Linked DNA regions of Homo sapiens. The protein of the gene in region 4 purifies or fractionates together with the protein of the main gene of each other region. This does not show direct contact. Each region holds a gene or a part of one and is shown on either strand. Other genes may lie near its edges. The genes, in order: IKBIP, RIOX2, TSR1 and RRP1.

Region 1 (7,592 bases), on a different chromosome or scaffold from region 4:
CTAGCAACCAAAAAAATCACAGTAGATTATAAGTAGCGTCACAAAAGAATTAGCACAGGGGGCAATGGATGCTTTGAGGAGAGATAAAAAGTTAGGAGGGCAATGCGAAAAGGCCTGGAAGTGGCTCCAAAATTGGAATCATTAACAGACTGATTGATGAATTAGCAGGGTGAAGATGTGAAAGCTTCTAAATTTCAAAGGAGAAGAGACCATGTCTTATGCCTCTGTGTAATCCCTACATCTCAGAGTACAAAGAATATGTTTGTTGATGCTTAGGAAGAATGACCCTAAGCCTTCTAGGTCCACCCCAATCAAGACTTAAAGAGTATGCAACAAGAATGACTAACACCACTCTGAAATGTTGTTTAAAATTTATTTTAAGGGTTGGGCATGGTGGCTTACGCCTTAATCCCAACATGTTGGGATGCCAAGGCAGAAGGACTGCTTGAGCCTAGGAGTTTGAGACCAGCCTGGGCACAAAGCAAGACCCTGTCTCTATCAAACAAACAAACAAACAAACAAACAAACAAAATTAGTTGGGCATGGTGGTGTGCGCCTGTAGTCCCAGCTACTTGGGAGGCTGAGGTGGGAGGATTCCTTGAGCCCAAGAGTTCAGGGTTGCAGTGAGCTATGATCATGCCACTGCATTCCATCCTTGGTGACCGGGCAAGACCCTGTCTCAAACATACATACATACACACACACACATTTAAAGAAAACAAACAAAAAAATCCAAAGAAATAAAAACCTCTTTTAAATGTACACATACAGCCATAATACAAGTTCCTTTTAAAATCAATTATGAGAAATACTAACCATTAACATGGTTAGGTTTAGTTGTTTTATTAGCAGTATTTTGAAGAGGCAAGCTTATCCTCACCTAAGGTAATGTCCTGTTTAGGAGGTTCATCAGAGCCTCACTATAATCTGAAAGCAGTATACCCCAAGTAAGTGCAAGATGTTATAGATTTAATCTGCAAATATTTAGTGACTAGTATGCCACAGTAGCTAGCATTTATGGGCCACCAACATATTCTAATCGTTTTTCATTTTTATTTACTAAAAAAATTTTTTTTGTAGAGATGGGGTCTCACCATGTTGCCTGGGCTGGTCTCAAACTGCCAGGCTCAAGTGATGCTCCCAACTTAGCTTCCCAAAGTGCTGAGATTACAGGCATAAGCCACCACACCGGGTCTCATTTTTTCTTAAAGAAAGAGCTAGTAGGGCCAGGTGCGGTGGCTCACACCTGTAATCCCAGCACTTTGGGAGGCTGAGGCGGGTGGACCACCTGAGGTCGGGAGATTGAGACCATCCTGGCTAACACAGTGAAACCCCATGTCTACTAAAAATACAAAAAATTAGCCGGGTATGTTGGCACATGCCTGTAATCCCAGCTACTTGGGAGGCTGAGGCAGGAGAATTGCTTGAACCCAGGAGGCAGAGGTTGCAGTGACCAGATCTCCCCACTGCACTCCAGCCTGGGCAACAAGAGCCTGGGCAAAAAAAAAAAAAAAAAAAAAAAAAAAAAAAAAAAAAGAGCTAGTACTTTATTAGTGCTTGATTGTTTTCAAAGAATTTGTATATAAAGTAAGTCCTCACTTAACGTCATTGGTAGGTTCTTGGAAACTGACTTTAAGTGGAACTATTCAGAGCAGCTCCTCCAACAACGTTGTTTCGATGTCCTTTCATTACAACGTAGATGAGAAAAAAATTGGTTTCATTATACACTTCACTTAAAATCGTAGTTTCCAGGAACCTATTGATGACCAGGAACCTATTGATGACGTTGAGGACTTACTGTATATCTCATCTGATCTTTATAAAAATCTTATTATTTCTCACTTAATAAATGATGAAATAGAGATGAAGATAAGTTATAGTGATTTGTCTAAGGTCACACAGTTGGGATGGGTGTCCATGTCTAGCTGTTTTCCCCTCCATCTGGGTTATGCTGCCCTTTAGGGCCACCTTTGTGAAAAGGGACCTCTTATTAAATTACTCCCAGGGCAGAATGGGAGAAAAAGCTACGAAAAGACTGAATATTTCTTTTTTTTCTTTTCATTTTTTTTTTTGAGACGGAGTTTCGCTCTTGTTGCCCAGGCTGGAGTGCAATGGCATGATCTCGGCTCACCACAACCTCCACCTCCCAGGTTCAAGTAATTCTCCTACCTCAGCCTCCCGAGTAGCTGGGATTACAGGCATGCACCATCATGCCCAGGTAATTTTTTGTACTTTTAGTAGAGATGGGGTTTTTCCATGTTGGTCAGGCTGGTCCTGAACTTCTGACCTCAGGTGATCCACCTGCCTTGGCCTCCCAAAGTGCTGGGATTACAGGTGTGAGCCACCACGCCTGGCCAAGACTGAATATTTTTTGGATTCTATAATGATATTTTAAAAATCTGCTTCAAAAGCTTTTTTTTTGAGATGGAGTCTCACTTTGTTGCCCAGGCTGGAGTGCAGTGGTGCAATCTCGGCTCACTGTGACCTCTGCCTCCCCGGTTTAAGCGATTCTCCTGCCTCAGCCTCCTGAGTAGCTGGGACTACAGACACACGCTACCATGCCCAGCTAATTTTTGTGTTTTTAGTAGAGATGGGGTTTCATCATGTTGGCCAGGCTGGTCTTGAACTCCTGACCTCAGGTGATCCACCCACCTCGGCCCCTCAAAGTGCTGGGATTACAGGTGTGAACCACCGTGCCCAGCCTGGCCAACATGGTGAAACCCCGTCTCTACCAAAAATACAAAAATTAGACGGGTGTGGTGGTACACACCTGTAGTCCCAGCTACTCGGGAGGCTGAGGCAGGAGAATCACTTGAACCCGGGAGGCGGAGGTTGCAGTGAGACAAGATCGAGCCATTGTACTCCAGCCTGGATGAGAAAAGTGAAACTCTGTACCACCCCTGACCTCCCCCACAAAAAAAAAAAGAAAAAAAAAAAGGAGAAATCTTGTTCAAAATAAGTTTTCAATAGCTTTTATTTATATTTATTTATTTATTGAGATGGAGTCTCACTCTGTTGCCCAGGCTGGAGCACAATGGCGTGATCTCAGCTCACTGCAATCTCCACCTCCCAGGTTCAAGTGATTCTCCTGCCTCAGCCTCCCGAGTAGCTGGGATTACAGGCGCCCGCCACCACGCCCAGCTAATTTTTGTATTTTTAGTAGAGATGGGGTTTCACCATGTTGGCCAGGCTGATCTCAAACTCCTGACCTCGTGATCTGCCTGCTTCGGCCTCCCAGTGTGCTGGGATTACAGGCGTGAGCCACCGCGTCCGGCCTTCAATAGCTTTTAATTAAATATGTGAAGTTTTGGCAAGGCACAGTGGCTCACACTTGTAATATCAATTCTTTGGGAGGCAGAGGCAGAAAGGTCATTTGAGGCCAGGAGTTTGATACCAGCCTGGGCAATGTAGCAAGACCCCGTCTCTCCAAAAAATTAAAGAAAAAAAAATTAGCTGGGTGCAGTGGCGTGCCTGTTAGTCCCAGTTACTTGGGAGGCTGAGTTGGGAGGAGTGCTTGAGCCTGGGAGGTTGAGCTGTTATTCCAACACTGCACTCCAGCCTGGATGACAGAGTGAGAGCTGGGATGACAGGGAGAGACTCTATCTGAAAAAAAAAAAAAAAAAAAAAAAAAAAAAATATATATATATATATATATATATATATATATATATGAAGTTTCTTGCCCCTGGGATTTCTTCTAATGGTATGTTAGAGTTCCCCCAACAGCTACAACCAGATTCCAATTTTTTTTTTTTTTTTTTTGGGACAGAGTCTCACTCTGTTGCCCAGGCTGGAGTGCAGTGGTATGATCTCAGCTCACTTCTGAAACCTCTGCCTCCCAGGTTCAAGCAATTCTCATACATCAGCCTCCCAAGTAGCTGGGATTACAGGCATGAACCACCATGCTCAGCTAATATTTTTGTATTTTTAGTAGAGACAGGGTTTCGCCATGTTGGCCAATCTGGTCTCGAACTCCTGACCTCAAGGTGATCCGCCTGCCTTGGCCTCCCAAAGTGCTGGGATTACAGGCATGAGCCACTACGCCTGGCTCAGATTCCAATTTGAGCCCTATGTGAAAATACCAACTCCTTTGCAGCTCCTTCCCCAAATCCCTTACACTCACCATCCATGGAATCCCCTGGCATTTGTGAGGGATACTTAATTTTCCTCCATGGCTTTTCTCTTCTGGAGGATTATATGCTCATCCTGTGCATGGGGCTGCAGGGACTTAGATGCTCCATTTCATCTCTATTTTTACAACATCCTTACCCACCCTGGTGCCAAGCATAGGTCCTTGCTTACCTTGTGACATGAGCAAAGGTTTAGTGAATGAATAAATGAACAAAAAGCCATATTTCCCAATGATAGCTTGGTCCCTGGTACCCAGAATAGGCCTACATGATGCCTTATTGATCACAGCTGACTTTGACTTTCTCCTGAGAGGTGTGGGAGTTACAAAAATGTTTATTTGTCTCACATTTCTAAGAATCACAGTAATAACGCATCTGGTAGAAATCAGCAACTTGAAGGAACACAATATAGACATGGTATTATTTTAATTTTCATTGGAATTCTTATTTGGCTACAGGACAAATAGTTACTTTTAGGCTAGCCGTTCTTTTTTTTTTAATTCTTTTTTTTTTTTTTTTTTTTTTTTGAGACGGATCCTCGCTCTATAGCCCAGGCTACAGTGCAGTGGTGTGATCTTGGCTCACTGCAACCTCCACCTCCCAGGTTCAAGAGATTCTTCTGTCTCAGCCCCCCGAGTAGCTGGGATTACAGGCGTGTGCACCACGCCCAGCTAATTTTTGTATTTTTACTAGAGATGGGGTTTCACCATGTTGGCCAGGCTGGTCTCCTAACTCCTGACCTCAAGTGATTTGCCTGGCTCAGCCTCCCACAGTGCTGGGATTAAAGGCATGAGCCACTACTCCCAGCCTAGGCTAGCCATTCTTAAATGCATGTACATATATCCTTAAAAAGCAAAAAGTAAGGGAAAAAATGGATAGATCTTTTCCCAATAAGTGCTATTCATATTCTAATTTTATGTCCAAAGATCAACCATATTTTCAGATGAGATCGAGCGCATTCAGGGTGGTATGGCTGTAGACATGATCAACCATATTTTCAATGCTCTAGATACCTGACACTTAAGTAGAAAATTAACATCATGCTAATATGAACAAATTGGTCTTTTTCAATACTAGAAATTATCATATTAAAAAATCCTTGCCCCTCAAAATGCAATCTGAGTCAAAATGGCTCAGAGGGAGAATGTCAAGAGGTAGGAAGATCAGTGAGAGTTAAAATAGTGATGGTCTAAAAGGCAGGAAGAAAGAAGTTCTGAGCTGGGATAGAGAAATGATAGTGGGGTAGTAAAATGGGAAAACCGTCCCAGATAAGCCAATTAATGATTACCTTTTCTGAAATTAAACTGATTTTACTTTGAAGTTGTTGGAATTCATTGGTTTCTAGTTTCAGTAACTGGTATTGGTTTTCCACCTTTGCAAATTTTTCTGACTGCTGAAATACAAACCTGGAAAAGAAAAGAAAAATCACTATTCTCCAATTCATATCCATTTAAATCCGAATTTCAAAGGAGAATTATACCCACTTCTGTTAAGAACAACATAAATTCTGGTATGGGTAGCTGTAGGTTTTTTTTTTTTTTTTTTCACACAGGGTCTCACTCTGTCACCCAGGCTGGAATGCAGTGTCACAATCATAGCTCACTGCAGCCTTGAACTCCTGGGCTCAAGTGATCCTCTTACTTCAACCTCCCAAATAGCTAGGACTGTCCATCTCGCTATGTTGCCAAAGGTGGTCTTTAGCCTTTTTTTTTTTTTTTTTGAGATGGAGTCTCACTCTGTCGCCCAGGCTGGAGTGCAGTGGCGCGATCTAGGCTCACTGCAAGCTCCGCCTCCTGGGTTCACGCTATTCTCCTGCCTCAGCCTCCCGAGTAGCTACGACTACAGGCGCCTGCCACCACGCCTGGCTAATTTTTTGTATTTTTAGTAAAGACGGGGTTTCACTGTGTTAGCCAGGATGCTCTCGATCTCCTGACCTTGTGATCCACCTGCCTTGGCCTCCCAAAGTGCTGGGATTACAGGCGTGAGCCACCACGCCCGGTATTTTTTTTTTTTTTTAGATGGAGTTTTGCTCTTGTTGCCCAGGCTGGAGTGCAATGGCACGATCTCGGTTCACTGCAACCTTTGCCTCCTGGGTTCAAGCGATTCTCCTCCTCAGCCTCCCAAGTAGCTGGGATTAAAGGCACCTGCCACCACGCCCCACCAATTTTTTAATATTTTTAGTAGAGATGGGGTTTCACCATGTTGGCTAGGCTGGTTTTGAACTCCTGACCAGTGATCTGCCCGCCTTGGCCTCCCAAAGTGCTAGGATTACAGGCATGAGCCACTGTGCCCAGCCCCAAGGTGGTCTTGAATTCCTGGCCTCAAGTGATCCTCCCCTCAGCCTCCCAAAGCGCTGGGATTACAAGTGTGGGTCAACATGTCCAGCCTAGATGCAGCTTTTATCAGTTTCTTTTGACAGATTTTCATGTGGTAGGTACTGGTTTAACTCATGCAAAGATGAGTAAAGCACTGCCCTTGTTCACAATTCACAGCCCACCAAATAAGATGGTGTGATATCTGTAATAGATGCATGCACAAGAAATATTTTAGAGGAGGACAAAGTGAAAAATTTAGAACAAGATCTTTGATCTCTACTGTTTTTCACAAGGCCATGATTGGGTAATATCTAGAAAATAGGTGTTTTTATGCTGAAATGTAGGCGAAACAAGAGTCGTCTATAAAAAGTATTTTAAAACTGAAATGTAGAAGAGTTGACTGATAAAAAGCAGTGGAGTAGAAGAGAGAAGTGATAGTAATTAGAAGTTGCAAAATAGCAGGAGGTGTGAAAAGAGGTATGAAAATAGAAAAAAGCCATTGCCAAAGTGACAATAGATCACAATCAGTGCAGAGTGTATAAACTGCACAATTGGTTATACTCAGTGATGTGACTCGTATAGGTGTACTTGAGATGTCACTCTAAAATTGGAGTTTATTCTTCATTATGGGTGGAAGCCCAAAAAGCTATCTCAATCTTCAAAACAACAAATCAACATCTGTTTATACAGGATTTGAAATGAGCAAGCATAAAAGAATTGTCTTGGATCCAATACCATTTTGTCTACTTTAACTCAATTCTTTAGGCTCAGAAAAAAACACTTGAAATTCTTTGCATATTGAGTCATCAAAACGCAATGGAGCAGAACCATAAGTACCTGCCTAAACACAGTCCTGAGACAAGTGGTTCAAAAGCTTTGCTACATATTGTAATAACCTGGCAGCTTTAACAAATCTGATGCCTGGGTCTCACAAAGATTCTGATTTAATTGGCTTGGGATGTGGCTTGGATGTTGGAAACTCAACAGCTTCTCAGGTAATCTAAGTGCACAGCCAAACTTAGAACCATACTGACTGACCATGTTTTGTGAAATTCATTTCCACTGAAAGGCAATCATTTAAAGATCCCAAGGATTAATGGAGAGGTGAAAGACTTTTCTGAGTAAATGCAGTTATCTGAACTTTGTG
Region 2 (7,592 bases), on a different chromosome or scaffold from region 4:
AATAGAAGACCACGTATATGCCTAAAGAAAGGCAAAAGCAAACATATAAAAAGCCCTACTAAATTTCAATACATCTTTCAAAGTATGGTAGGAAAATGCCTTAAATTTGGAGTCAGAAACCCTTATCAGCTTGGAATAGTTATGGAAAGGTCACATCTGTGAACTCCAGTTTTTCCACATACAAAATGGAGTCCACGGCTGGGTGCGGTGGCTCATGCCTGTAATCCCAGCATTTTGGGAGGCCGAGGCAGGTGGATCACAAGATCAGGAGTTCAAGGCCAGCCTGGCCAACATGGTGAAACCCCCATCTCTACTAAAAAAAAAAATACAAAAATTAGCCGGGCATAGTGGCATGCACCTGTAATCCCAGCTACTCAGGAGGTCCAAGGCAGGAGAATTGCTTGAACCCAGGAGGCGGAGGTTGTAGTGAGCCGAGATTGCGTCACTGCACTCCAGCCTGGGTGACAGGGCAAGACTCTGTCTTAAAAAAAAAAAAAAAAAAAAAAAAAGAAGGAAAGAAAAAAAAGAAAATGGAACAAAAGCTGCCCTATTTCAAATGCCTGTTAGAAAGCTCAAAAGTTAAAATATATGAAATTACTTGGTAAACTCTAGCCTGCTAAGCAAAATGCAAATAATTGTGATAATTCCTCTCACCAGGACTTTTAATATATGGATTACTGAAAGCAAGTCCAAACAACTTATTATGGCTCCCTGGTTACCTCCTTACTCGTTTTTAAACTAACTATACTAATAAGCTGTGCACAGTCTGAGACCCAATAAACAAAGGGCTGCATGTTCACTCTAACAGTCTCTCAACCTGGCCAGGGATAAACTCCTTCTAGACTTCCTCTGTTCTGACGTTAATATGCCCATTACTAAAGAAACACACACAATGCCAAACCACCTTATAATATAGCACTTAGAATCCAGACTCTAGTGTAAGACGGTGAGCTCCTATGGCTTATAGGTCTCTCCAGCACGGGTGGTACAAAGAGATTAAAAAAAAAAAAAAAAAAAGGCCCAGCACAGTGGCTCACGCCTGTAATCCCAGCACTTTGGGAAGCTGAGGCGGGTGGATCACCTGAGGGCAGAAGTTCGAGACCAGCCTGGCCAACATGGCGAAACCCTGTCTCTACTAAAAACACAAAAATTAGCCAGGCATGGTGGTATGTGCCTGTAATCCCAGCTACTAGGGGGACTGAGGCAGAAGGATCACTTGAACCCAGGAGGCAGAGGTTGCAGTGAGCCGAGATCGTGCCACTGTACTCCAGCCTGGGCAACAGAGCAAGACTCTGTCTCAAAAAAAAAAAAAAAAGGCACATCCTAGTCTGGCCTGAGGGCTGAATTTGGGCTGAGAAAGCTCATCCTTCCTGCTTTAATAAACTCAGCCAGAGCCTAGTCAACAAGGCAAAAGAAACAGGTTCTTGGACACTGGAATCCCAGACGAGGAATGTGCAGCACTTAAGTGGATGAGCAGAGAAAAGCCCTGCGGGGGATGATTCTAAAGTAGAGAAATGACAGCCACAGTGGATACCACACATATGCCAAATATCATCTCTCTGCTGGTCTATGACCAAAGTACACGTAATCAAATTCACTGAATTCATTTATGTTTAGAGTTCTCAGGTTTCTAAAAACCACTCTTAAAAGTGCTACTTCTAGTCAAGGACTAGCTCAGCGAGAAGCATTTTATTGACGGTGTCCATATTTTCTGAATTCAAATCATAACTTGGTCTGACAAATGATTTGTAAATTCTTTTTGAGTGCCTAGGCCACAAGGTTAGCATTTCAGGGACATTTCAACTTTGTATGATTGCTTGAGATGGAATAGCTGGAATCAGGACTCATCTTGAAAAATCTAAGAGCACTCATACCTCATACAGAGTATGAATAGGTTCAAGATCTTTTAGACAAGAAAGAAAGGGAAGGGCATTCACCAGATGAAGCCCAATGGGATATAACAAGCCACCTCAAGTTAAATCACTGGAAACACTATTGGTAACTGACGACAGAGCCCCAGAAGCCATCAATAAAGCCAGAATCCATTCCTCTCAACATGGAACCTCACAAACCCCTCTCTTTCTCCTCCTATGTTGCCATTTTGATTTAATGAAGGGTCACAGAAGGGGGTTTCTGAATGGGGATAAAAGTTTATCTAAAATTCAGAACAGCCCCTCACCTATTCTGGGCCATCTGTCATGAGATGAGATACAGATCTCAAACCTTGAGGAAAACAAATTAGTTCATACTAAATCTGCATTTTATAAATGTAGAAACCAAGCATAGAGGAGGCAAATTATTTCCCAAATGTCAATCCCTGATATAGAAAAAAATTTAAAAATTTGCCAATCCTCTGCATTTGCAAAGCAAAGATTTCCTCCACCTATGAAGCCTTACCAGGAGCAGTTCCAGGTACCTCAATGTCACCCATTCGGGTGTTATTAAGGGTGAAGTCTCTTTATTGGACTTGCATCTAGCATGTGATCTGGTCATGGCTCTGAAGCCTCCATTTAGATGCAGGCAGTAAAGGGAAGCAACTTCGGGAAAAAATGATCACCTTGATGCTGTCATGCCTTAAATTACAGTGATGTGACAAACCAAATAGAAATGTCTATCATATAGAAAAACATAAACTGGCTCACAGAACATACTCCTGCAGTTGTAGTGCCACTTTAACAACTTTATAAACTTGCAGTATAATTAGTTTTGCAGCTCAATGATACCCAACAATGTCTACCCTGAGTTGCTGGAGTTTCTAACAGTCCAACCAAACATAACACATAATCTTAATCCTAGTTAGAATGCATTTAGACCAAAGAGGTGCTACCCCTTCTCAAACTGGCAAGAGACTAACCATCATCAAACTACGTATTCACCCTTGAGCTGATATGTGGCCAAATGTTAGTACTTTAAAATGTATGAGGATTCTGCAATGGGGAAACTGGTTACCTTAAATCTCTGAGGTTGGTGAAACTGAATCGTTGCCCTTTTCTGATCAAAATCTTTTCTCAGCTGAAGAAAGTGTGCTTTGCCATCTTTATTTAAAACCTTCTTCTTCCCATTGACACACCGGCAGACATTCACATCTCTTCCATAGTACATCCCCCGGCTGCACAGACTCTTCAGATCTGTTAGCTTGAACAGGGACCCATAGTATGTGGCCAGTGCAGGGTCATCTCTCTGAATGAGAAGGGGCTTCTGCTCCCAGAATTCCTTGAAAAAAGTCTCTGTCTTGATGGGCGAGATTAAACTTTCAAAGAGACTACTGGGACTGTCAAAGTTTAAAGCTGAAGGCCCCCCAGCTGCTTCTAACTTCATCTGCTTACAGGGAGCCGGCCCCTCTTCCTTCCCACTCCCTGTAGGCTTTGCTTTCTTTGGCATCGTTCTGTCTTCAAGACAAAGCAGTAAGGAAATGCAAACCTACCAAAAGAACAAAACACACATGGTTAGGTTTACAAGGAGTGCCAGCATTGGTGTTAGTGGATCGCGCGCACACACAACTGAATGACCATTACACCTTCGTGAGAACTCTTCATAGGTCAAAGCTACTTCCCCCAGGATAGGAGACAGCCTTAAGCCAATGCCATTTCTTCTAAGATATGATTCAAGCTCAACCACCACTCAGATGACATATTCATCTAAAGAAGAACGTGTTTTTCTTTTACACAAGCACTATGTCATGGTATTATTTATTAGGCAGTATAATTATCCCAAATAAACCTATTCAACTGTCTCAGCAGTTCCTACTCACAGGTTTAGCCTGTGGCCACTGACACAGCAAAGTCAAATATCTTGGATTTGGCTCCCATCAGCATCAGGGCCCACATCTAATTAGATGTACTCTGAGTTACAAACATTTGACTAGAGAAAAACTAACAGCCGCCCACTGCCAGGTGCTCCTCACCGCAGCACCACCCCAACTGTTGCGCAGGTCAATCAATGCGCCCTGGACCCGCGGTGTCTCCTGGTGGCTGGAGCAGGCCACTGCCTTCTCCTGTCTCCACTAACCACCTGAACCTGCTCACTTCCAACTCTGAGCTTATTCCTGAAAACGGCCACTTTTATCAGAAACTCCCCTTCGTTTAAAGAAATAAAGCCCCTAAAGGCTGAAAAGTGAAGGCTAAAAGTAGTTATATCTAAAGCCTTGAAAAAACTATAACTTTTTAACTGAAGATTTTAAATAATACCAATATCATTAGCCCCTAACACAGCACTTCTCCAACTTTAATGTGCACACAGATCACCTTAGCATCTCAATAAAATGCAGGATATGATCCACTAGCTCCAAGGTGAAGCCTGAGGTTCTGCATTTCTAACAGGCTCCCAGGTGATGCTTCTGCTGCTGACACTGCTGAGTAGTCGAAGCCACACAGCCAAGCCTTGCAAAGCTCCTTCAGAACTGCCTCCAAACCACAACTATTGATACTTAGAGGGTAGGTTTCCCTCATCTGTTTCCAAGAACTGTAATTCAAATTATTTAAATTTCCTGAGACTGCAAAATTCTATCTTAAAGTCCTTTCCCTCTGGGAAGGGACTCCATCACTTTCAACAGATTCTTAAGGAAGTCCCTATCTCCTGACAAGGTTAAGAACCACTGTACTTATAAAAACCAAAATTTCTGAAAGACTTGTTATTTATAAATGGTATAGTTTCCTACTTTGGTGAGTTATCAGAATTGCAAGAATACTGTTTTCTGTTCTTTTGTCATTATAACTAAGCAGTATTTCAGCTACACTGTAGACTAAGTGGAATTAATGTTCTGGCCTGGGAAGTAAGCATCCTGGAACGATGTGTTGCATACTGTGTGACGTGTTGCAACTTATAAAAGAAACTTTAGATTGAAACCCAGATGTAAACTGAACAAATTAAGAAAGGAAATGTCAAAATATAAAACCCTCTAAACAGCTCCATTCCTTCAAAAGACCAGGTGCTTTTGATAAGGAAACACAGGACATGGTGGAAGACTAACACAAACTGATACTACAGGAGAGGGGTAAAGCTTGAAGCTTAGAAAAAAAAAATAAACTTTAGTGTTTAGGATATGTGGTCAGTAAGACACATTTTCTGAAAATGTTTCCTTTAAGTGAAACAGACCAGCTTGAATTCTCCAGGAAAGAATTAAGGCTTCAGGAAGGCACAGCATTGCTAGTACATGGAACTCTCAAGTGATGGAGAAATACAAAGAGATAGAAAAATGGATTCGGGAAGGGGTACTGCTTATGCAGAAGACGTTCCATAGCAGGCCTGACTGCTATCCTTTGAAAGTGCAGCTTGTGGCCGATGTCTGAGAACTTAAGATTTTGGGAGAGTTTCCACCACCATTAACTGATAGGAGTGGCTCACCATGCCTAAAATGTACAATCATTACAGTTTATACCAACACCTGCTTTCCTCTGGGAGTCTGGAAACGTTGGTATGTGCCAGGCAGGGGTGGCCTAAGTGAAAAGCCCCCAGTAAAAGCCCTGGGCACTGAGTCTCTAACAAGCTTCGCAGGTTGGCAACATTTCACAAGTGTTGACACAACTAGTTGCTGGAGCAACTGAGCACAGCCAGTGTGACCGCTCGAAGACCCTTGGAGCCTTGCACTTGGTATCCCCAGAACTTCACCCATGTGCCTCTTCCCTTTGCTGACTGTGCTTGATATCTTTTCCCTGTAATAAATCAGCCGAGTCCTCCTAGCAAATTGCTGAACTAAAGATGGCCTTGGGGACCACAGCACATTGCTCACGTTTAATTTTTAAAAACTTAGATTGGTTTATTAGGTTTGTATTACTAAAGGCACCCTATAGAGTCATTTTATATTCAGCCACACATCTCTTATCTCTCACAATTGGTCAGTTTAAAATTCATTTAAGGGGAGAGAGCAGGAGGAAGATGCAAACGAAAAGCTTTTCTTTAAGCATAATATATGAATACAGTATAAGCACATTCACCAGAAAGTGTGGCTAATCAAAGAATGCAAAACACTTAAGCCAAAATAAAATCACTTAAAAGAATCTTTCCCATCTACAATCACTAACAAACCCCAATACTGTATAACAAATGCTTTCCTTAGAATATAAATTTCACTACCCATACTGCCAAAAGTTACATCATTTGTTTCTCTGTGTTCATGTTGAAATGATTTGAGGCTCAGTTAATTGGAGCCTAAGCTTAGAGGTTTCTGGGCAAATACATTATTTCTCTGATTCTCACACTACTCATACTGTAAGACAACCATTCCTCTTAACAGCTTTCTAGAGCAGAGGGGAGAATAGATGAAGCATCCTACCACATTAAACATACAAAAGTCTTAAGGTACATATCATAATTTCGGAAACAGCAAGAAGTAAAACACATATCTTAGAATCCAATACTATAGTAATTAAAGAAGACAATGCTTTGTCTAGAATAGTACAGCCAACACAACCTTGCCCATAAGCCTTAGAGACCACCCCAATAGGAGTAAATATTTCTGTAAAATCACAGAAAAGTTTTTGAAGAGCAATTGTTTTCCATTTGAGTTGACTATAAGCATTAAATGTAAAAAGACTAAAAGATTTACAGTTCATACTTTGGTGACTACCCCACAGATAAACCCTATAAGAAAATCAATGTTGACAACCATACTATAGGCAACAGACAGACAGTCACTATATTTTAAAGGTACCCTAACCTCCTTTTCTATAATATTTGAGGACATGAAGACGTGAGGAAGCTCTTGAAGGAAAGGATTTGTATATCCCCGGAAACAAGCACGGTGTGGTACATAGGAGGTCCTCAAGAAATGTCTGCTGAATTTTTCACATTTTCATCTTTTGTCTGTATACAATTTTGGAGACAAACCACAAAGGCCTTACACAAAACAGTTACGGAAAAAACAGATGGCCTGTGCAGAGGGGATTATTTTTCTGATTGCAGCTGTCACTTCAGGATTCAAGAGTATCGTAAAAGCTAAAAGGCACTTTAGACATCAGTAGTTATTACTAAATCGGGGAGGGAAGTATGAATTTCTACATCCCCTGGGCAGTTTTACAGAATGTAGTTCAGAGTTACCAGCAAGGTTGTTAGCATGCAAATTTCTGGGCCCTCATCAAGCCCACTGGATTGCCACTTCTGATGGCTGAGGCCCATAATCTGCATTAACGTAATACGCTCTCTAGATGAATTTTAGGTCCACTAATGGAGGACAACAGTCAAACGCAGCTCAGTTAAACACACGGCTGTCAGAAATTATATATTGCTTGTAACAAGGTTGCCCAGACTGATCTAAAACATTTCTTTTTGGCTCAGAGATATGTTAATCAATCCAGAGGGAAAACTGGTTCTCCTATTGACCTAAAGGAGTGATCAGCAGTTATCTTTTTAGTCTGATTTTAGAGAGGAAACGGACTATACCTCAATGTATTTTCGTGACCATGAGGTTACAAAGCTTGATGTCCAGGAGGCAAAAACCAGTACCAGCAGAAGAAGCTGAGTAAATCAGGTTCCTCTGCTCAAAGATGAGCCCAGTGACATGAAACCCGAGGCACCAGATTTACAGCTAATGAGTGGCGAAATCAGATCCTCTTCCTCCCAGTCTATCCTTCCTGAAAACAGTGAATAACCTGGTC
Region 3 (6,373 bases), on a different chromosome or scaffold from region 4:
CCAAAGTGCTGGGATTACAAGTGTGAGCCACCGTGCCTGGTCCCTCATCTTCTTTTTATTTATTTTGAGACAGGGTCTCACTCTGTCCAACCCAGGCTGGAGTGCGGTAGTTTCTTCTCAGCTCCCTGCAGCCTCCGCTTCCTGGGTTCAAGAGATTCTCATGCCTCAGCCACCAGAGTAGCTGGGATTACAGGCGCGTGCCACCACATCTGGCTAATTTTTGTATTTTTAGTAGAGACGGGGTTTTGCCGTGTTGGCAAGGCTGGTCTTGAACTCCTGACCTGAAGTGATCTGCCCACCTTGGCCTCCCAGAGTGCTGGGATTATAGGTGTCAGCCACTGCACCCAGCCTTGACCTCATCTTCTATTATTTCTCTTGCCCACTCTGTGCCAGCCATACTAACCTTTTTAGCTGTTCCTCAGAAAGGCCAAGCACTCCTACTTTGTAGTCTTTGCACTGTTACCCCCTCTCTGGAATATTCTAGACATCCACAGCACTTGTTCAGATCTTTTAAAATGTCACTTTACTAGAGGCTCTTCTTGGCTACCCTATATGAAATAAATTCCTTCATTTTACTCCATTGCACTTAGACATACCATATATTTACTTCATCCATCTCTACCATACAATATAACGTGCTTGAGGGCAGGGATATTTTATTAACATATATATCTCTAGTACCTGAACAAAGTGTGAAAAAAGTAGATGGTCAATAAAATGCTGAATGACCAAATGGAACTTGTTGGGGACTCTATTAAATACAAATCAATTAAGCTAAATTAATGTACTTTCAGTCCAGAGAAAATGTTGCAAAAAGAGTTACAGAAGAAACAGAAGGCATCATGGTACATCCCAACCAGGAGCCTGCAGTGATAGCTGGACAAGGGACAATTGCCCTGGAAGTGCTGAACCAGGTAAAATAGCTGAGTTCTTCCTGTTTAGCTACTGGTAAAGCTGTTGGGCTATATTCAATTATTTTATATGTATACATTAAATATAAAACTGCTTACAGTTTATATTTTCACTAAAGGTTCCTTTGGTGGATGCACTGGTGGTACCTGTAGGTGGAGGAGGAATGCTTGCTGGAATAGCAATTACAGTTAAGGTGAGCAGCTTCTGGAGGATTCCCTGCTTCAAGCAGAGGATTTACTTTACATCCTAAATGTTCTGTATACACGTGCTCAACATTCTGCACACATTACCATTCCTTCCCCTTATTCCTTTGGGACTTGAGATGAAGGCCCATCTCTGCCTCACTACTCTATTTACTATTATTATTATTTTTTGAGACAGATTCTCGCTGTTGCCCAGGCTGGAGTGCAGTGGCACGATCCTGGCCCACTGCAGCCTCCACCTCCCGGGTTCAAGCGATTCTCCTGTCTCAGCCTCCTGAGTAGCTGGGATTACAGGCATGAGCCACCACACCCCGCTAATTTTTTTGTATTTTTTTTAGTAGAGACAGGGTTTCACCATGTTGGTCAGGCTGGTCTTGAACTCCTGACCTTGCGATCCACCCGCCTTGGCCTCCCAAAGTGTTGGGATTACAGGCGTGAGCCACTGCGCCCGGCCTATTTATTATTTCTAATATTTTTATTTTTTTTAAGAGATGGGGTCTTGCTGTGTTGGCCAGGTTGGTCTGGAACTCCTGGGCTCAAGCAGTCCTTACTTTGGCCTCCCAAAGTGCTAGGATTACAGGTGTGAGCCACCGCACCCAGCCAACTCTCTTCTTAATCCATGACAATTTTACAGCACAAAAGCAGTTACAAGTGACACCATCATAGTCTTTTCCCTGAATTCCATGTCATCAAGCTACTATCCATACCAAGGGGCTACCCTTTTCTCAAATTACCAGGACAATCAGATGTGATCCAGGCAATGGAAGGCTAGTATCAGACATATAATTTATTTATAAAGTGCTTGAAGATATTTTCATTACATCCACAAAAGGGAAGGCTCTTACTTGGGCAGAAATGTATTACTTATTGTGCCTATTTTCTTTTTTTTTTTGAGACGGAGTCTCACTCTGTCACCCAGGCTGGAGTGCAGTGGCACGATCTTGGCTCACTGCAAGCTCCACCTCCCAGGTTCACGCCATTCTCCTGCCTCTGCCTCCCGAGTAGCTGGGACTACAGGTGCCTGCCACCATGCCTGGCTAGTTTTTTTTTGTTTTTTTTTTTTGTATTTTTAGTAGAGACGGGGTTTCACCGTGTTAGCCAGGATGGTCTTGATCTCCCTACCTCGTGATCCGCCCACCTCGGCCTCCCAAAGTGCTGGGATTACAGGCGTGAGCCACTGCGCCCCACCCCATTTTGGTGTGATCTCAGCTCACTGCAACCTACCCCTCCCAAGTTCAAGTGATTCTCCTACCTCAGCCTCTTGAGTAGCTGGGATTACAGGGGTCTGCCACCACGCCTGGCTGATTTTCCTATTTTTAGTTGACACTGCATTTCACCAGGTTGGCCAGGCTGGTCTTGAACTCCTGACCTCAGCTGATCCACCCGCCTCGGGCTCCCAAAGTGTTGGGATTACAGGTGTGAGCCACCACACCAGGCCCATATTTTCTTTTAGACATGCAGGCAATGTTGTGGTTTGTTGTTAAGATGTCTTAATATTCCTCTTCCCAGGCTCTGAAACCTAGTGTGAAGGTATATGCTGCTGAACCCTCAAATGCAGATGACTGCTACCAGTCCAAGCTGAAGGGGAAACTGATGCCCAATCTTTATCCTCCAGAAACCATAGCAGATGGTGTCAAATCCAGCATTGGCTTGAACACCTGGCCTATTATCAGGGACCTTGTGGATGATATCTTCACTGTCACAGAGGATGAAATTAAGGTGAGGCTCCAGCAAGAAAAGAAATAGCAAAGCATGGTGTAACTTCTTAGGCAGAAGAAACTTCCCTTAGGAGTAGCAAGTGACCCACGGGAACCTGACTAGGTAACTTCATGACATGGGAGGGTACCCTAGATGTATTAATGACAACCCTCTTGACAGAAGCAGAGTCAGAATTAAAGAAAAGCTTTGGGAAGCGTGTGTACACAGTGATAAGAAAATTCAAACTGGACACGTATTCTCATCTGAACTTTATAGGTAAACCAACTAGACTCCCCTTTCACTAATTCCTACTCCCTTCCATATCAACAGTGTGCAACCCAGCTGGTGTGGGAGAGGATGAAACTACTCATTGAACCTACAGCTGGTGTTGGAGTGGCTGCTGTGCTGTCTCAACATTTTCAAACTGTTTCCCCAGAAGTAAAGAACATTTGTATTGTGCTCAGTGGTGGAAATGTAGACTTAACCTCCTCCATAACTTGGGTGAAGCAGGCTGAAAGGCCAGCTTCTTATCAGTCTGTTTCTGTTTAATTTACAGAAAAGGAAATGGTGGGAATTCAGTGTCTTTAGATACTGAAGACATTTTGTTTCCTAGTATTGTCAACTCTTAGTTATCAGATTCTTAATGGAGAGTGGCTATTTCATTAAGATTTAATAGTTTTTTTTGGACTAAGTAGTGGAAAAACTTTTATACTTAACTGAGACATTTTGTCAAGGCTAAAAAAAAGTCTTGCAAAATGGGGCAGTGGACTGACAGGCTGACATAGAAAATAAACTTTGCCCAATCACAACTTGTGCCTCCCATCCCTGGAGTACTGACTGGCACCGGTAAGACAGAATCTCTTTGAATCCATTACTCCATGCCCCCTTGAGGCACTGTTGAAGAAATCTCACTTTTCAGCCAGGGTACTGGTTCTGGTACATATGGATCATAAGTCCATTTGGGGAAGACTCGTTTATACAGGTTCATCAGTACTGTGTCTTGAGATTTTAGCTTCCCATCAAAGCTGCATTTCATGTGGCCATGGGTACCTAGAAAGACATCAGAACAAGTCGGTCAAATTAAAAGTAGAAAATTTTAAAGCAATGACTTCCAACCCAACAGTCATTTAGCAACACTGCAGAAATGCAGACATGGTCTCAAATCCCGTGTTTCCTTACCTAAAGGTTCCTTGATATGTCCTCTCCGGCCCCACTTCGTTCTCAGTTCCACTGGTTTAAACCACAGCACATCCTCTTAGAATCAAACACATTAAAGACCAAGATGAAACATTTACCCACAAAATGTAAACCCAACCTTTATACCACAAAGGCAATCAGATCCCATCCTCCTCCTTCATACCCACCTCTGTTGAAGAACATGTAACGTACTACTGCCATCTTAGTAAAAATTTTGAAAGGATGACCACTCAGAACAACTCTCTTGATGACCATTCTGTCTGGATCTACTGACATAAGATGGCCTGTAGCAATGAGGCTGTGCATTCCTAAAGGACAAAAGCAAAGAAGCTATTTAGGAATTTACAGGCCAAAGTCTTCATTTATTGCCCAGTCCATTTAAAGACCCATGCAAGAGCCTGGTTTGTCATCCCTGCCCTAGCCCAATCTGAGGCTAAGATTGGTAAACTGTAAGCCCACACTTAACCTTGTCAATAGGTTCTTGAAAACTTGTACTTCAAGAGAAATGATGTATAACAAAACCATACTTTTTCTCATCAGTTGTTACAAGGAAAGGATGTTGAACAAAAGGCAGTTATTTGAGGACTGGCTATACACTGTTTCACGTAAAAGTTGGAGTTTTCATTGTTCTATTAACAATGTTAAATGAAGACTTACTGTATTTTGAAAACCATCATTACCTTCTCCATACCATTTGGCTCCCAAATTTAAATAAACAAGAGAAAACGGTGTTCATCTATTAAGGACCTGCAGGGTCTGTTCATCTCTGTGGCTCAACTTACCATTGCTTTTTTGCTTGAAAAGCAGCACAGATGCAGGAGGAAAAGTGATTGGCGCATAGACTGTCGCCACCAGGGCCATGTCAGCAGTCAGGAATCTCTGCAATTTATGTTTGTCCGCTGCCATAAGGGTTAAAAAATGAAAAGCAAAACCATTTTGAGAAACCAGAGGTGATAGAGGCCTGTGAAAAGCTGTATTAGTGCAACTCTTAAACCTATGGCAGCTTCTACTTCTCTAAACCACCAGTTCTCAAAAATTTTCGCTGCCTCAATGCACCTAAAAGATACGATCTAGTCCTATCAGTAACTTTTTTTTTTTCTTTTTTTTTGAGTTTGAGTATCGTTCCTGTCACCCAGGCTGGAATGCAATGGTGTGATCTCAGCTGACTGCAACCTCTGCCTCCCGGGTTCAAGCAGTTCTCCTGCCTCAGCCTCCTGAGTAGCTGGGATTACAGGCACATGCCACCACGCCCGGCTAATTTTTGTATTTTTAGTAGAGACCGGGTTTCACCATGTTGGCCAGGCTGGTCTCGAACTCCTCACCTTGTGATCCACCCACCTCAATCTCCCAAAGTGCTGGGATTACAGGCGTGAGCCACCGCGCCAGGCTGTATCAGTAACTTTTTATTTATTTATTTATTTTGAGATGGTGTCTCGCTCTTGTTGCCCAGGCTGGAGTACAATGGTGCCATCTCTGCTCACTGCAACCTCCACCTCCCAGGTTCAAGTGATTCTTCTGCCTCAGGCTCCCGAATAGCTGGAATTGCAGGTGCCTGATCAGTAACTTTTTTATCTGGAGTCAGAATCTTGGAGCCTAGACTGTATTTGATGTTCTACCTTCAAGGTAGCCCTCACCTCCTTTTTAAAATACTAAACTTAAAGGAAAATAAAATATTTTAAGGCAAAGAAAAATTAATCTCACTTAGAGATTGTGATTCTCACAATTGGTGAGAATAAAAATTATCCAAAACACCATTAATACTGCTTTCTTCATATTCCTCCTGCCACTGCTGAGAGTGAGTGAACTAGGACGATGTTCAGAAGCCCCCAAGTTAGTGGGCAACATATCTTCCTGCTCCTACTGTGTAGGAGACAATCATTTCTGCTGCAAGTCCCGTCCAGTAGTCTCTCAGTATCTCAGGACCCCTACCTCTGCTTTACCCAACTATGAGCCATACCCAGCCTCCATTCCTTCACCCACACTGCCCTTGGCACACTAGACATCAAAGTTTCCACACTTTATCACACCCTTTTAAATTCTGAGAGACAGTGTCTCACTCTGCTATCTAGGCTAGACTGTATTTGGTGTTCTACCTTCAATGTAGCCCTCACCCCCCTTTTAAAAATACTAAACTTATAGGAAAATAAAATATTTTAAGGGCTGTGGTGTGAACACAGCTCACTGGAGCCTCAAACTCCTGGGCCCACTGGCTCAGGCAATCCCTCTTGCCTCAGCCTCCCAAGTAGCTGGGACTGCAAAGCACATGCCACCACACCTGGCTAATTAAAAAGAAAAATTTTTGGCCGGGCGCAGTGGCTCATGCCTGTAATCCCAGCACTTTGGGAGGCCAATGCGGGTGGATC
Region 4 (7,592 bases):
ACGTGTGCTTGGTGCCCACAGAAGTCACTCTGGCTTCTATGCTGAGGATGGACTGTGGAGAGGGGCAGAGACAAGGGGACCAGGTAGGAGGTGGCAGGAGCAACCCAGCAGGAGATCGCACTGGCTCAGCCCAGGACAGGCCCCGAGGAGAAGCCAGGCGCAGTGTGACCCCCACCTGCGGGCGGCTTCTCAGACCTCTTCTGGGACAGCGCGTCTCCACGCTCACCACCCTCAGAGGACTCATCACTGTCCGACGCCACCTCCTCATCCTGTGTGTCCAGTTCATTCAGGAGGTCTTCAATGGCAAGCGGGGCCTGCTCCACAATCGTCTCAAAGATGCCTCGAGTGATGTTGTTCAAAACCAAGGAACTGAGGGGCAGAGCAGAGGCCGGTGAGCAGGCCCGTTATGCTGGATTCCCAAGCGGAAGCCGCCGACTCCCCTGCAACCTCTCCCCACCCACACGGCCAGCGGCCACTCTGAGACAGATTCATCCCTCGAGGGAGCAGCACCCCCACAACAGCAGCCCCATGGAAGAACTCAGTGAAGGAGTCGGGCCCGATCAGGCCACCCACCACTTACTCCTTGGTCCGGGCAGCAATTCTGCAGAAGGGGTCGATGAACTTCAGGTTCTGGTCTGCCGTAAGCTACGGGGAAAGCCAGCGGGAGCTCAGTTCCTCCTCCACAAACGCCCAGCTCCACCGCCCCGTCGGAGCCCAGCCTCACCTCCTCGGCGCCCACTTTGGTCAGCTCCTCCAGGAAGATCTCGATGAAGTGGCTCTTCACACCGTTGGGGGCCTGGCTGCTGGGGTGCAGGATCTCAGTCATCAGCAGCTCTAGCAGCTCCTCGATCTGTCTGAGGAAAGAAAAAGCAAACATGACAGGCAGCCTCGATGAGCCCCAAGACAGCCGTGCCCCCCACTCTCCCATGGTTACACGCTCTGATGGGAACCTAAGTGCGGGCAGGCGCCACTGTCTGCAAACATGCCAGCCTTAAAGTCCACGCAGATGATATCAACGATCCTAGGTCTCCTCCAGCGCAAGGCAGTCTTGCAGTTAGGGAGTTATGTGACCAGCACCACCACCAGAACGTATGGCCTGAGTGTGCATGTCAGCTACAAAATGCAGCACGTGTAAACATTCAGACAGGCCTTCCCTCTGTCCTCAAGATTGCTAGCAGAGAGAAAGGCTTGGCTGAGACGAGACGCCCTGCCTGGTGTTCCTCTCCACTGCCTCCACTGGGTACCGCTGGGGAAGACACGTCAGGACAGCACAGGCAGAGAAAGGAAGGTGGAGGCCCAGAAAGGGGCCGAGGACCATGAGCCACCTGCTGGCTTCCTGGGCCCTGCCGCACGACGCATTCCAACTGTGACGTCCACCAGAGCTCTCCCTGGCAGGCGGGTTTGATGGCATCACAGGCCCTGGATCTGAAGACTAGACAGCCCCAGAGAATAATGTGTAGCACCTACATGCATCTGGACCTCCTGGGGTGCTTAATAACGCAGCTGCCTAACTCAGATCTGTAAACTGTGTGATCCTTAGGAAGCTCCGTAGCAAGGCTGGAGAATCACTCGTGATGGAAAGGAAAAGTGATGCTCTCTAAGGCTCAGGAAAAACGAGACAGAGGCAAGAACAGGTGCTGAGACCAAGAGGAAGACACACAGATGCAAGGGACCGACTTCCCAGGCCAGTGGCAATGGCGTGGATATTAATGACAGCCTGGTTATGCCTGCAGGAGATCCAAGAGGGCGGGAAGAGCGGACCCCACTGTCAGCACTGGGACCGCAGCAGGCATTGGGGGAAGGCACCGAGGTCTTCCACATGATTCCTGTGCTGAATTCTCAGTTACAGGGAGAAAAGTACTCTTGTAATAATATGCCAAAAAAAGTTAACACAAGTAAAATCATCCCTTTAACATTTAATTCAGCTTAAGCCATGAGACCCCTATGGGGTAATCCACAATGCTAAGGCCCAGAATGAATGAGACTCCTGGCATCAGAGTCCTGCCAGGGAATAGAAGAATGAAAATCCCTCCAAACCAGAGGCACCGCTGCCCTAAATGCAAAATCACCCATGCAACTCAAACCTAGAGAAACTCAGCAGCCACAGTTCAATTCCTGCTGATTCTTTAAAAAAAAAAAACAAAAAACCAGAATCTCACTCTATCACCTAGGCTAGAGTGCAGTGGCTCAGTCACAGATCACTGCAGCCTCAAACTCCTGGGCTCAAGAGATCCCCTTAACCCACCATAACCAGCCTGCTAATTCTTTTCTATGCATTTATCTAATTTTTGTACTTTTAGTAGAGACACGGTTTCACCATGGTGGCCAGGATGGTCTCGATCTCTTGACCTTGTGATCTGCCCGCCTCGGCCTCCCAAAGTGCTGGGATTACAGATGTGAGCCACCGCGCCCAGCCAATTTACATATTTTTAGAATTAGGAGCAATTAACATTGCTTACAACTTGGGAGGCCTAGGCAGGCAGATTGTTTGAGCCCAAGAGTTTGAGACAAGCCTGGGCAACAGGACAGAACTCGTCTCTACCAAAAAAAGATACAAAAATTACGTGGGCCTGGTGGTGCACATCTGCAGTCCCAGCCAGTTGGGCGGCTGAGGCAGGAGGATCACTTGAGCCCGGGAGGTCAAGGCTGTAGTTGAGCCAAGATCACGCCACTGCACTCCAGCCTAGGCAACAGTGACACCTATTTCAAAAAAACAAAAAGCATTGCTAATGAAGCGGAACATGCCGTGTTTTTATAAGAAGCTCCTCGGCTGGACACCCTTTCATTAAAAAACTCCCTTCTGACTCCCAGTGAGAACTGGCCTCCAAGCCTGAGGATAAATGGCATCATTTCCACAAACACACAAACTGATTTTTACTTTAAAAACTATCTTCTCTCTAAGCACGATTGGGGGCATGCGTTAATATAAAGGCTGACATCTCCTTATGGCAAAGAATCAAATGACAAACACGACTGCGGTCCCCGAGAACAGCGTCCCCCCAGAGCAGGCCCGCCGCGCACCCACCTTTCTTCCCAGCCTTGCATCTTCAGAACCTTCAAGGACTCGTTCAGGACCATCCGCATGAGCTTTGACACAGAAGGAGGTTGGCATTAGCAGAAGCCCAGCCCTACTTCGCCAGACCACCCATCCCCATGTACCACCATCCGCTGCAGGATAAAGTCATGGCCGTGGTGACCTCTGCCGGCCCCAGCACACAGCCGGCCCCCAGAGCTGCTGACAGACAGACGCTGGAGGACACACCACCAAGCCCTCAGAACCCTGGGCTGAGAACATGCCCTATCCCCGGCTCCAAGGCCCCAGCTGGCAGGAAGCAGGTGCATGGGGGGTCGGGGGTAATAGGGGACAGTCCTACGACTCCAGTCCATAAACCGGGGCTGAAACGGAACAGTCCGATTCATAAGGGAGAACCAGGAAAGAGGCACGGCTACCCCCACGGGCGGTGGAGCCCTCCGCAAAACCAGGTCTGAAACACGGCTGGTCCTCACCAAACCCCCCGCAACGGGCAGAATGTAGCTCACTTCCTCTGCGGTCCACTACACAGCGAAGGCCCTCCCGCCAAGCCTCACCCGTGAATCAACAATGCCATTTCCCTCCATGGGGCTCAACACCCTTCTGCAGTTGTCCCCCCTTTAGGCTACTGACCCAGCATGCCCACACGCCCAGAGTGGGGTCTGAGCTGCAGTCAGTAGCAGCAGAGGACACGCGGACCCCCAGGAGCCCCGATGACAGAGCACAGCCCAGCAGCCCGGACACTGTTCTTGCAGACACAGGAGGCCTATCCCCCACAACACCCTGCGGTGCCACCGAGGCTAGCCCTGACGCAAGGCTGTGCTGCTGGACTCAGCCACACAAGGGGCACCCAGAAACGAGCCATGGAAAGCAGCAGAACGCATCCATCCAGGGACCCAGCAGCCACATCTCAGCAAAACAGTAGGGTGGCCTCCCTGCAGAGCCCCATTGTCCCTAAGAGTCTGCACTCTGTCTGAGTGCATGGCCGGGCCCCTGGCCTGCCCTGGAGCCTCCTTCCTTCTTGAGCTCCAGGCCTTTCCCGCCCTGGTCTCCACTTCTAGAATCACTGGTATATATGCTGTCTGCACAATCCTGGCCCGAATCTGAGCTGGACACTGAAGCCAGAGTGGCAGATCAACATCTGTCCTCAGTGAGACCCGGACATGGCCCCTTTCAGTGTCCCCATTGGGTGACCGACTCCTACACAGTGACAATGTCCCTGTATCTCAGGCCTGCTCTAAGGTTACAATGACCACCACCTTAGTAACGAGACCTCATGGTTCAACAAGAGGGAAGGAGGGAAGGAGAGAAGCAGGTCCGGGCAGCAACACGCTGCACCTCTAAACCCCAGTGTTCCCCTGTATTCTCAGGGCAAATCAGTGCCCTGAACGGGGATACAATGAGGGAGGAGGGAAAGGAAGTCCCACACTGTGACCATCCATCCCAGCCTCGCAGGCTAAGCACTCCAGGGCTCATGCTAGGGCGTGACCGCAGCTCCTCTGCTGCGCCTCCAGACTCACTCTGCCTCTTTGACAAGGTAACAACGGTGTCACCATCGACTCTCACCAGGAGAGCAATCGTCACTTTCCTTCTCTGAACCAAAAGTTTGTGTGGTGTTTTAAGGGTCGAATTCCTTGCCCATTCAATGACCCTCAGAGACTGGACAAAGCTGCAGAGCCCTGGTCAGGGACCGCCCAGAGTCTCGGCTCCACCTCCCACCCCTGGCTTCAGGGTCGCACTGCCTCAGGTTGCCTCCCTGCCCAGGTGCCGCCTGTCTCGCTTGGCCAGGCACTGAGACCCGCGCTGCCCCCGCCCGCCGGCACCCTGGTGGCTGCCTCACCATGTAGAATTTATCCAGGCGCAGCCTGTCAATGCCCGTCCACTCGCGATTCATGGTCTGCCAGAAGGCCTGAAGGAACAGGTGCTCTGGAGAAGGAATAAGCCAGAAGAGAACCACTGAGGAGCACGAAGCCACTCTGGGGAGGGAGGTGAGAACATGGAGGAACCCGTTCTTTACATAGCTATAGATAAAAAATGCTGATGCCCAGGCCCTACCCCCAGAACTGGATCTTGCTGGACCAGGATCTGGACATGAGGATTTTTAGAGGCTCCTCAAGTGAGTCCTACAGACAGGCAGGGTAAGAACTTCTCAACTCCGGTCACCAGAGAACAGAGGAGTCAGAAAAATCAACTGCAGGAACCTCAGGACCATCAGGCGGAATTCAGTCCAATCTCTTGGTGACATTATCCTGGCTTTTCACTTTATTTTTAAAGTGTAAGATATTAGCCCATTAGGCTCGAAATGAGGGTTTTGGGTAAATGAGCTAATCCATGTTGAATACTTACACCAGCACTGCACACATGCTAAGCACCCACAGACACCAGCTGGCGCTCTCTTGCCCTTAGGCATTCCTTACTCTGGATTTGAGAACACAAACCTCCTGGGTCTGGTGGCTCTGATGCTCAGAGGTTCTGACATCTACAAATGCACCCAACTACAGCAGAGCATACTCACGCGCCTCCGTGGTCTGAAAAGCATGAACGAGCTGGGAAATAGTCCTTCCTAATTCTTCCTGTGTAGGAAACAACAAAAACGCCCTCAGCCCCTGAAGCACCAGGCTCTCACAATGACACACACGCAACCACCCACTCACCCACTCACTCACTCACTCATCACAGAGAGTCGGCTTCCAGGGGGTCTCAGCTCAGTGCACTGGAGGTTTCACCCCTGCTCCAAAAGACCCCTCTACAGCCAGGGTCAACAGGCTCTCACACAACCACGGGAGGCCCCTCTAGACAGCTGGGGTCAACAGCCTCTCACACAACCACAGCAGGCACTGCCCTCTTGACAGAGGCTGTGCCCTAAGCCACAGAGTCACGGTTAAAGAGGGACGTGGGAGAGCGGAAGGGAGCCTTGGGACTCACAGCCCCCTAACCATCAGGAGGAAGAGGGCTGCGAGACCCCATAGATCACTGGCTATCTGCCTACATCACCGTGCCAGCCATCGCCCAGAATACTTGCTAAGGGACATTTCACAGCCTCCCCTTGATAATTCAGTGGGCATGGAATATGGCCCAGGAACCTGAACTTAACTAAGTACCCTCACCACCCAGGAGATTTTGAAGGAGAGCACAAAATTCACAATTTGAGAAACAATGTTTGGAAAAGGCTAGCAGGAGACGTCCTTGTCTCAGGAGACTTGAATTCCGCCCCGTGGTTTCCACTATTTCAGCACTTGTTTGCAACCCAGGACAAACACAAAACCCAGTTTTCACCCATGCCAGTGCTGCTGCAGTGCACGGCTCAGTCAATCACATCAACACCTCAGCAAGTGTAAGACTCACCTAACAAAGGCCCAGGCCCACCAGCCGTGCCGAACCAAGCGTCAAGGCTATACGACCTCCCCACGGTCTCTGGCCATATTAAAACTGGGTTGACCAGGCCGGGCGCGGTGGCTCATGCCTGTAATCCCAGCACTTTGGGAGGCCGAGATGGGAGGATCACTTGAGCTCAGGAGTTCGAGACCAGCCTGACCAACATGATGAAACTCTGTCTCTACTAAAAATACAAAAAATTAGCCAGGCATGGTGGCAGGTACCTGTACTCCCAGCTACTTGGGAGGCTGAGGCAGGAAAATTGCTTGAAACCAGAAGGCTGAGGTTGCAGTAAGCCGAGATTGAGCCACTGCACTCCAGCCTGGGCAACAAGAGCGAAACTCCGACTTAAAAAAAAAAGAAAAACTGGGTTGACCAGATGCCCATCCATCCTCCCCCGCTGCTTCTGTACCTGCTCTGCTGCTCCCCCCACTCACCTGGAGGAGTGGCTTGTCCTGCATCCACATGCAATAAAACAGTCCTTTCCACACCTTCAGCAGCTCGTCGTGCGTAAAACCACCTGCATCAAAACAGCAACGGTTGGACCAAATGAATCCCACACCTTCGAGTGCCAGAAAGGAAGCCACAGAAACGTGACTGCCTGAATGAGACCAAAGTCCCACTTACGGTAAAGGCAACTGGGGGGCAGAATCTGGCCCTCCCCTTCAAACAATCCTTCTAACCCAGAACCTGCCGCGCCTGTGGCTATGCGGCTACTCCAGGTAACTGCTACTTCACGCACACAGTAAAACCGACTGAGATCTACAAGGTATCAGGCACCATACTCCATTTTGGAAATTCAAAATTGCGAACCTTGACGGTTTCCTAAGCTGGACAGTGGCCACAAGGTTAATCTGTTGGTGATAATTCATCCAGCATTATACTGAGGGCTTCTGCACTCTCCTGTAATATATCTCAAATACTAAAAGAAGAAAGTGAACTCAGGCATTCAGACTACGAGAGAAACAGAAATTACTGAGGCCAGGTGCGGTGGCTCACGCCTGTACTCCCAGCACTTTGGAATTGAGTGCTGAGGCAGGATCACTTGAGGCCAGGAGTTCAAGACCAGTCTGGGCAACATAGGAAGACCCCAATTTGTACAAAAAATACAAAACTTAGCTGGCCTGGCCGCACGGTGCCAGTAGTCCCAGCTATTGGGGAGGCTGAGATGGGAGGCTCACTTGAG

What was found.
Region 1: the proteins of RRP1 (region 4) and IKBIP purify together in Homo sapiens (co-immunoprecipitation; one large-scale study listed by IntAct). This does not show direct contact.
Region 2: the proteins of RRP1 (region 4) and RIOX2 purify together in Homo sapiens (affinity purification with mass spectrometry, with the first as the bait; one large-scale study listed by BioGRID). This does not show direct contact.
Region 3: the proteins of RRP1 (region 4) and TSR1 purify together in Homo sapiens (co-immunoprecipitation; one large-scale study listed by IntAct). This does not show direct contact.

The regions. Positions count from the first base shown.
Region 1 is NC_000012.12:98,628,878-98,636,469, forward strand, and holds part of IKBIP (inhibitor of nuclear factor kappa-B kinase-interacting protein), read right to left. Parts: intron 5,537-7,592; coding exon 5,419-5,536; intron 1-5,418. UniProt on the Homo sapiens protein: Target of p53/TP53 with pro-apoptotic function.
Region 2 is NC_000003.12:97,964,213-97,971,804, forward strand, and holds part of RIOX2 (ribosomal oxygenase 2), read right to left. Parts: exon of another isoform or gene 7,378-7,592; intron 3,421-7,377; 5' UTR 3,382-3,420; coding exon 2,950-3,381; intron 1-2,949. UniProt on the Homo sapiens protein: Oxygenase that can act as both a histone lysine demethylase and a ribosomal histidine hydroxylase. Is involved in the demethylation of trimethylated 'Lys-9' on histone H3 (H3K9me3), leading to an increase in ribosomal RNA expression.
Region 3 is NC_000017.11:2,320,512-2,326,884, forward strand, and holds the end of TSR1 (pre-rRNA-processing protein TSR1 homolog), read right to left. Parts: intron 4,910-6,373; coding exon 4,793-4,909; intron 4,754-4,792; exon of another isoform or gene 4,319-4,753; coding exon 4,178-4,318; exon of another isoform or gene 4,068-4,177; coding exon 3,993-4,067; exon of another isoform or gene 3,864-3,992; coding exon 3,685-3,863; 3' UTR 3,363-3,684; coding exon of another isoform or gene 3,144-3,362; 3' UTR 2,835-3,143; coding exon of another isoform or gene 2,625-2,834; 3' UTR 1,885-2,624; downstream 1-1,884. Other genes in the region: SRR (serine racemase), read left to right, coding at 795-914, 1,031-1,105, 2,625-2,834, 3,144-3,362. UniProt on the Homo sapiens protein: Required during maturation of the 40S ribosomal subunit in the nucleolus.
Region 4 is NC_000021.9:43,790,684-43,798,275, reverse strand, and holds part of RRP1 (ribosomal RNA processing protein 1 homolog A), read right to left. Parts: intron 6,927-7,592; coding exon 6,844-6,926; intron 5,605-6,843; coding exon 5,547-5,604; intron 4,958-5,546; coding exon 4,872-4,957; intron 3,088-4,871; coding exon 3,026-3,087; intron 855-3,025; coding exon 725-854; intron 646-724; coding exon 581-645; intron 370-580; coding exon 176-369; intron 1-175. UniProt on the Homo sapiens protein: Plays a critical role in the generation of 28S rRNA.